2 linked regions of the Homo sapiens genome follow. The protein of the gene in region 1 interacts with the protein of each later gene in a biochemical or structural test. Each region holds a gene or a part of one and is shown in the gene's direction. Other genes may lie near its edges. The genes, in order: ILKAP and RPS6KA3.

What was found.
Region 2: of the proteins of ILKAP (region 1) and RPS6KA3, one has a biochemical effect on the other in vitro, tested with the Homo sapiens proteins (one study listed by BioGRID).

Annotation. Positions count from the first base shown.
Region 1 is NC_000002.12:238,196,896-238,200,804, reverse strand, and holds part of ILKAP (integrin-linked kinase-associated serine/threonine phosphatase 2C), read left to right. Parts: intron 1-3,909. UniProt on the Homo sapiens protein: Protein phosphatase that may play a role in regulation of cell cycle progression via dephosphorylation of its substrates whose appropriate phosphorylation states might be crucial for cell proliferation.
Region 2 is NC_000023.11:20,265,401-20,269,309, reverse strand, and holds the start of RPS6KA3 (ribosomal protein S6 kinase alpha-3), read left to right. Parts: upstream 1-2,400; 5' UTR 2,401-2,677; coding exon 2,678-2,746; intron 2,747-3,909. UniProt on the Homo sapiens protein: Serine/threonine-protein kinase that acts downstream of ERK (MAPK1/ERK2 and MAPK3/ERK1) signaling and mediates mitogenic and stress-induced activation of the transcription factors CREB1, ETV1/ER81 and NR4A1/NUR77, regulates translation through RPS6 and EIF4B phosphorylation, and mediates cellular proliferation, survival, and differentiation by modulating mTOR signaling and repressing pro-apoptotic function of BAD and DAPK1.

The DNA of each region.
Region 1 (3,909 bases):
GTCGCCCAGGCTGGAGTGCAGTGACATAAACACAGCTCACTGCAGTCTCGACCTCCGTGGGCACAGGTGATTCTTCCACCTCAGCCTCCTTGGTAGCTGGGACTACAGGTGCGCACCACCACAGCCAGCTAATTTTTGTATGTTTTGTAGAGACAAGGCTTTGCCATGTTGCCCAGGCTGCTCTCGAACTCCTGGGGCTCAAGTGTTCTGCCCACCTTGGCCCTCCCAGAGTGCTGGGATTACAGTGGTAAGCCACTGTGCCTGGCTGAGCCATTAACAGTTGTTTAAAAGTGGAAAAACGCAGTCTTAAATGAATTATGGGAAAGCACTGAGTGTCCAAAGGGAGAATACTACACTGCTTATATCACATCAAATGTATTAATATTTTGTTTAGATCTTTTTATTTTTGTTTTAAACGTTGCATCTAATGTTCCCACCCCTAAACCTCTTAAATGTTTATAATCTAGAAAAATACATAGAATGCACTAAATATTTCAGGTATTTTGCTAAATTAGTAGTTTTCATCCAAGCCCTTAAAAGTTTTAATTGCTGAATGAATCAAGTTTTTTAAAGGAGAGATGTATATATTTTACCTAAAAAAAAGTGTTTGTTCATATCAGGCAGAAATGGAACTTTCCTATGTCATACCCATAAAAGTGCCGACCTGATGTCTTTAAGATTGGCAGCTTATATTGACAATCCATGTATGTCAGTTGAAGGTGTCATGGTTTAAAATTGCTTCGCCAGTAACTTGATTTCACTTTTATAGGGTGGTTCTTTTACTTATTTGGTTGCTACACTAGTACTTTAAAAATTGATGGTCAGTTGTTGAGGAGGAAATAAAATATTTGATGGCCACACCATCTTAAAAATACTTTAAAAAAATTGGAGGCTGGGCTCGATGGCGCATACTTGTAATCCCAGCGCTTTGGGGGAACAAGGCAGGAGGATGGCTTGAGGCCAGGAATTTGAGAAGAGCCTGGCACAACTTCGTGAGACCCCTGTCTCTACGATTAAAAAAAAAAAAGAAGAATATTTGAACATAAAGGTTAAGGTATTAGAGGAAAACAGATTGTAAAACTACAGGGTTGAACAAGAAAAAAGTCATAAAAAAGTGAATTTGACTATGTAAAAATTTAAAATTTCTGCAGGACAAATGATACTATAAAGGCAAAAGACAAACCGAGAAAATAATTGCAATATACATTACTAAGGGTATAAGAAAGGCTCACAGAATTGATGGGAAAAAATAAAACCCACTAGAAAAATGGTCAAAGGATGTATCCTCCCAGTTCAGAGGTAAGGAATACAAATGGCCCATCAACAGAAAGTTGCTGAGGAACTATTTACCTTTTCACCCATCAGATTAGCAACAGTTGGTAACATTGGTGAATGTGTAGCGAAGTAGACTTTCTCATAAAGTGTTTTGGGAGTGAAAATTACAACTTTTTGGGGAACAGATTTTGGCTTCTATCAGATTTAAACTAATATCCTTTGACGAGCAGTCTAGCAGATTAAGCAGGAATACATGTATCAGATTGTTGATTGTGGCGTCACTTATCATATGAAGAACTGGGAAAAGCTTGAACCCATCAGTAAGGATCTGGTCGAATGAGTGGAGATGCTTCCCATGTGTGGCTGTTGGAGAGGATGAATTAGACTTGGGTGTGTTGGCCTGGAGCATGCCTTGATGGGTTATGTGAACACTATATGTGGAGTATTGTGTAGAGTATGACTCTGTCTTCTACAAATTAAAATGCATGAGTCCATGTGCATGAGCATTAAGGAAAGTGGAAAGGATACACTAAACTCATACTGTGGTTGGGGGGTGTGGCGGAACCTGTCCCCCCTTTTTTCTGATAATACCTCTGTGGTGTTTGGAAAACACCTGGATTTATTTTATAGTTGAAAAAATTGAGGTATAAAAAACAATTTAGCCAAAATATTTTAACATCCTTTTTTAACTTTATTGGATACAGCAACCTTTAACCTGAATATGATCAACCCAAGGGTATTTTTCTCAGCATAGTATATAACTTCCAGTAGACTTAGCTCCAGAATGTAGATAACTGAGGAAAAAAAAAAGTTCTAGATGAGATTAACTATGATTAATGGACATTTTTAGTCTTGTATTCTTATTAGGGTTCTAATATTTTTAAGATTAGGGGAGGGGCCTCTTCCAGATTTTTAGGTCAGGGTCACACTTTGTCCAATGATTGCAGCCCCCAATGCTTTGAATTTCAGTTTATTCAAAATAGAATGTAAGGGCCTGGAGCAGTGGGTCACATCTGTAATCCCAGCACTTTGGGATGCTGAGGCAGGAAGATTGCTTGAGTACAGTAGTTCGTGACCAACCTGGGCAACATAGTGAGACCCCGTCTCTACAAAAAGTTAAAAAATTAGCTGGGCATGGTGGTGTATGCCTGTAGTTTCAGCTACTCGGGAATCTGACGAGGGAGGATTGCTTGAGCCCAGAAGGTTGGGGCTGCAGTGAGCTGTGATCACACCACTGCACTCCAACCTGGCTCACAGAGCGAGACTCTTGTCTCAATTTAAAAAAAAAAAAATCTAAGGTTTTGACTAATCAGTAGTTTCCTTATGTATCTATGACCTATAGATTTTTTTTTAAAGAATCCACATACAGACTTCTAAGTTAGATTCTTTTGATGATGCAAAAATTATTTCCAGAGATTTTATAAAATCTCAGGATTATCATCATAGGATTGTTGTAAGGGTAAAATGAGTTGATGTTTATGAAGTTTCTGGAAGGGTGCCCATGTATGGAGGCAGCATAGTACCTCACTAAAAGCACGGACTGCATGGCTTTGAATCCCCACTCCACTCCTTACTGGCTCTGTGATCTTGAACAGGTAATTGACCTCAGTGCCTCAGTTTTTTCATCGGTAAATAATAATAGTACCTATCTCATAAGAATTAAATGAGAAGATGTGTGGAGCTCTTAGAATAGTGCCTGACAGGCAGGCAGTATTATCATTTTTAGAAGCCATTCCCAGTTGTGGCCAGCAAAATGTAGGATGGTCTCATTGTGTTTAATTGAAATACCTCTCATAGTATTCCAGAGTGAGAAAGAAGGTGATAGGCAGTTCTCTGGGGATGGGGCTCAGTTTGGGGCACCATCTGACTGAATTGTAGCCAGAGGAGAGGCGGCCAGGCTAGTATTAATACTAAGCTGTAAGTTGCATTGTGAGGAATGCTTACAAGAACTGAAAATATATTTATTACCTGGGTAAAAGAAGACTTCCTCCCTTGTACAGTGGCAGTGGAAAGACCTGATTTAGATGGGCAAGTTAATTCAAAAGTTAAAATATGACCTGGTACAAGCGGAAGGGTTGTTTGCTCTTCATGTTGGGCTGTTACCTGTAAATGTCCCCTCCCTTGTCCTAAGACATCTGGCTCTGTGACACCACTGAATGCAGCGTGATTGTCTGGAACATCTCATGTGGTTTTTGAGTCTGTCCGGAGAACGGGCGTTGTGATTGTTAGACCCAATGTTTGGGCAAAAGTGACCTACTTCGGGATATTAGGAATTCTTGTAAGTGGATTAATACATTGAGTAATGGTTATCCTAAATACTTTTTTTGGGTGCTGGGGACAGAGTCTGGTTTTGTCCCCCAGGCTGGAGTGCAGTGGCGCTATCTCAGCTCACCGCAACCTCCGCCTCCCAGGTTCAAGCAGTTTTCCTGCTTCAGCCTCCCAAGTAGCTGGGGCTACAGGCACCCGCCACCATGCCTAGCTAATTTTTGTATTTCTGGAGAGACAGGGTTTCACCATGTTGGTCAGGCTCATCTTGAACTGCTGACCTCAGTCCTGACCTTGACCTCCCAAAGTGCTGGGATTATAGGTGTGAGCCACCACACCTGGCCATACTAAATACTTTTTAATGGCTTT
Region 2 (3,909 bases), on another chromosome or scaffold:
AACGTGACCACCGCTCACATTACTTTTACAGATCAGGTAACTCTGTTTTAAAAGTTATTCCTCTGGTTCTCAAGGTTAACAGAGATGAATAAAAGTTGATACTGAAAATGGCATACAATTTGCTTTATTTTAAAATATTCATTCTTTGCGTGGGGGTAATTAGCACTGAACAGTGTTAGCCACATAACGGTCTCTCTTCAACTATGTATGTTTTTACTAATGCAAGAATGTTAACTGAAATAATTGATCAAAGGGTAGGGGGAGCTAATTTACTTTAAGCCAACCGAATTAACGAACTTCTTTTCGCTATAAGGAGTGGTCATGTGACTCTGCAATGTAAATGAATAAAGCATTTTGTACATAAATGCAAAATAGTACACAACTCCTTATCCTCCAAACTTCTGCAAGCACGTTTTACCGTCGGGAATTACACAGAGAAGGTGCTGCCAAATTAGCTGAGTTTGGGCCCAGGTTGGATTTGCAACACCTGAATATAGCATGTGAAGGGAAGTGACAAAGGCAAGAGCCAAGTGGCCCCATTCGCCTTCTTCCCCAGACCACGTTGAGTCTGCCCAGATGTTGTCCAACCTGAGCGGTCCCCCTGAGTCCAAAGCTTCGGGAGAAGGCGCGCAACGAGGACTTCCTGCCGCCTTCTCAGGCTCCCTAAACAGTTGGAGCCTCCCTAAATGGCCACGAGGTTCCCCGGCCTCGAGCCTGTGCCAAGGGGCGCGCTGGCGAAGGCAGCAGAAAGAGCCCAACACCTGCCTCTCGCAGGCCCAGCGAGAAACCTCGCACCGCCCGCGCAGACCTGGCCGGCTGGGTTTGGGGCTCTAATCTCATCCTCACACCTGCTTAGGGAGGCAGGCGAGGGTTCTCCAGGTGTCTGGGTCCCGGGAGGATGAAAGGAAGCTGTTAATAGGCGTGCGCTGGGAGCGCAGCAGCGGACGCGCCGTGGTCGCTGGGCGTGGGAAGACCGGGATGCCTGGGCCACGGCCTGAGGGTTTGAAGGGACAGGCCGGCTCGGAGATCTCCCTTTGCTTTTTCTCTTCCCCTCGCTGGGCGACTAGCCAGGGGCTGCAGTAGCTTTCCACTCAGCCCTGCGACTTTTACACATTTCTGCCCGGGCGCACTTAGCGCGCAGCGGCTCCTGGCGCAGTGAACACAGGGTCGAGTCCTCTTGGGACGCACCCCGGACGCCCAGGCCTTCCCCCCAAAGCTCTCGCCGTCCTGTGGGGCTCCGTCGCCGTCGGGGCATTGGGTTTCCTTAATCCAGGGCTTCCCCATCTTGGGCAGGAGGAGGAGTCAGAACCCCTCCCCTCCCTCTGTCCCCCTCCTCCTCCTCCTCCGCCCACGGCCAGCCTGATTTTTAAATCTAATCTCTTATTTAAAGTCAACAGAGGAGCAGGAACCCCGCGCTCCTGCCTACAAGATATTTTTAAATAATTCTCCAACCTCTACCGAGAGGGACAGCCTTAAGGAACCTCCCTGTTTTCCCCTCTTGAAGATTTAGGTAGCAGACGTGGGGCGGGGGGCAGCGGTTCCAGGGTCGCAGCTGAAGGCCGAGAGCTCTGCGCACTTGGGGAGGAGAATTTGGGCTGGGGGCGGTGCGGGGGAAGCGACTAATACAAGAGGAATTAATCCCAAATAGCCACAATTTAACAAAAGAGCGTCAACTTGAAAAGACTTGAATCAAACCGGGAGCCGAGCCCCCAGGAGGCTCCTAGGCACGAAGCCTCCCTTGCCTCCGTCGGGGGAGATGGGGGGCAGGTGATTTCCCAGCATGTGACCCTGAAGAGGGAGGGTCTTGGGCCATTACGGGATGCGCCCAGAGACTAGGCGCGTCCGCACGCACGCACCCCCGGAGGAGACAAGCCGAAAAGACACTCCGCACCCCTCCCCGGGTCCTTGGCTCGGGACTGCGCCCCCGGTACTTTGCCCACCTCCCTCCCCAGCTGGGCGGGGACCACTGTTCTCCCTCATTCCCAAGGAGCCTCCGACCTCCTTGGACCCTTGGCGGTGAAAGGCTCCCAGCCTTCGCCCCTCCTGCCTTTCCCATTTCTTTCCCCCGCCTCCCGCCGACGCCCCCAGATCTGTTGGGCTCGCCCTTCCTGAAAGTAGGCGAGGCCCAGAAGCTGAGGTTGGGGCGCAGAAGGAGGGGGGTGGGAAGAGGGAGGAGCGGAGCGCAGCGGCCGGGGGCGTGTCTTCCACTAGCCCAGCCCCTGGGTGCGCGCGGCGGTGGTGGCGGCGGCCGAGCCTCGCTTTGAGAGACAGGTATCGCTTAGGCGCCATGTTGTGAGCGGAAGTGGGGGAGCGCGCGGCGGTCGCTGTTCTGCTGGGAGCGGGCGCGGGAACCGGCGGGGGGGGCGGAGCCGTAGTCCCGGCGGCGGAAGGAGGAGAGGAAGAAAGGGGCGAGACCCGGTGCCCAGCGGAGGCGCGAGGCTCTCGCTCAGCGCGCGGGCGTCTCTGGCCAGGCGCGCGGCTTTCGGGCGGTCGGCGTCGGCGTCGAGCCCTCTCTGGGGCCGCCGCCGCTGCTGCTGCTGCTGCCGCTGCCGCTGCCGCTGCCGCCGCCGCCGCCGCCGCCGCCGCTGCCGTGGGGCTCGGGCGGCGACGGAGCGGGGCCGGCCGTGGGGCGGGCGGGGAGGGAGGAGGCGGTGAAGGCGGCGGGCCGGGGGGGAAGATGCCGCTGGCGCAGCTGGCGGACCCGTGGCAGAAGATGGCTGTGGAGAGCCCGTCCGACAGCGCTGAGGTGAGTGCAGCAGGGCGGCCGGGGCCGGCGCATCTCCTCCTCGCGCCCCCGCCGGCTCGCTTCGCTCCCCGGAGCTGGCCACTCGGCCCGTTCTGATCCCGCTCGCGTCTTTCCCCCGGGCTCAGGGTTTTGGTTTGGGTTGTTGGGGTGGGTCTATTGGCCGGTCTGTCTGTTCCTTCCATCCTCACCCTCACCTCCTTCCCTCGCTCGGGGGGCTGCCAGTGTGGTGGCGCGTGGGGTTTGGAGTGGGCGCTGGGGCTTTGCAAGAAGCCAATTTTAATCAACTTTGCGTGGGGGAAGCGGGAGGCGGAGCGGGGGCCGGCGGGGAGTTGGGAAGTTTGGCCCAGCCGGGTCGGGGGCTTTCCCGGACCTTGGCGACTTTGGGAGATGAGGGAGGGGTAGGGATCGGGTTCACCGGGGAGCAGGGACTCTCGAGTCCAGCCGAGGGAGGGGCTGCTGCGGGGAGACCGGCGCGCGGGGCACGGGCGGCGGCGACCTGTGGGGGTTTCGGGTAGGGGGTGCAGGGTTTTGCCTCCCCCTCGTCTGCCGCAGCGGTTTCTGCTGCTGCAAAGAAGAAAGCGGAAGCCTAAGGTCCCCTACCCCCTCCGTTTCTGAGGTCGCAGAGCTAGACCCCCGTCCCTGTGAGTTTAACTTGAGTTTCCTGTCCATGGAGGTGAGAGGGTGATATTCAAGGAGATCAGCGGCCGCCGTAAAAGGCTTTCTGGTTTTCCTCGCCCGGGATCTGGTGACCGTCCCTGAGTCACCCATCCTAGTGCCCAAAACCCAAACAATATACCCAAACAGGGCAAAACAGAATTTCCCCGGGCGCATCACTACACCGAGCTTTCCTGAACCGCCCCTATCCCAGAACAACTCGGGGTCTGCGAAAATAATCCAGACAAGACCCGTTCCAAGGTATCACCGCTCCTCTCCGGAGTGGAAAATCAATTCCTGATGGTGGCGCGTCTGTGATTCTTCCTTCTTGACTTTTTGCTGCCTTCTCTCCCCGCAGCGGACTTTAGGGGATTACAGGATGATAGGCTGCGTGTGTGTAATAGTTACTGAGTGAGTGACCCCATTTCTGGAAAGCATGACTGAAACGCGGGGGTGGAACGGGGCAGGCTCTGATGAGTGGTGTGCTTGGCGGCAGCCGCTGCCCTGCC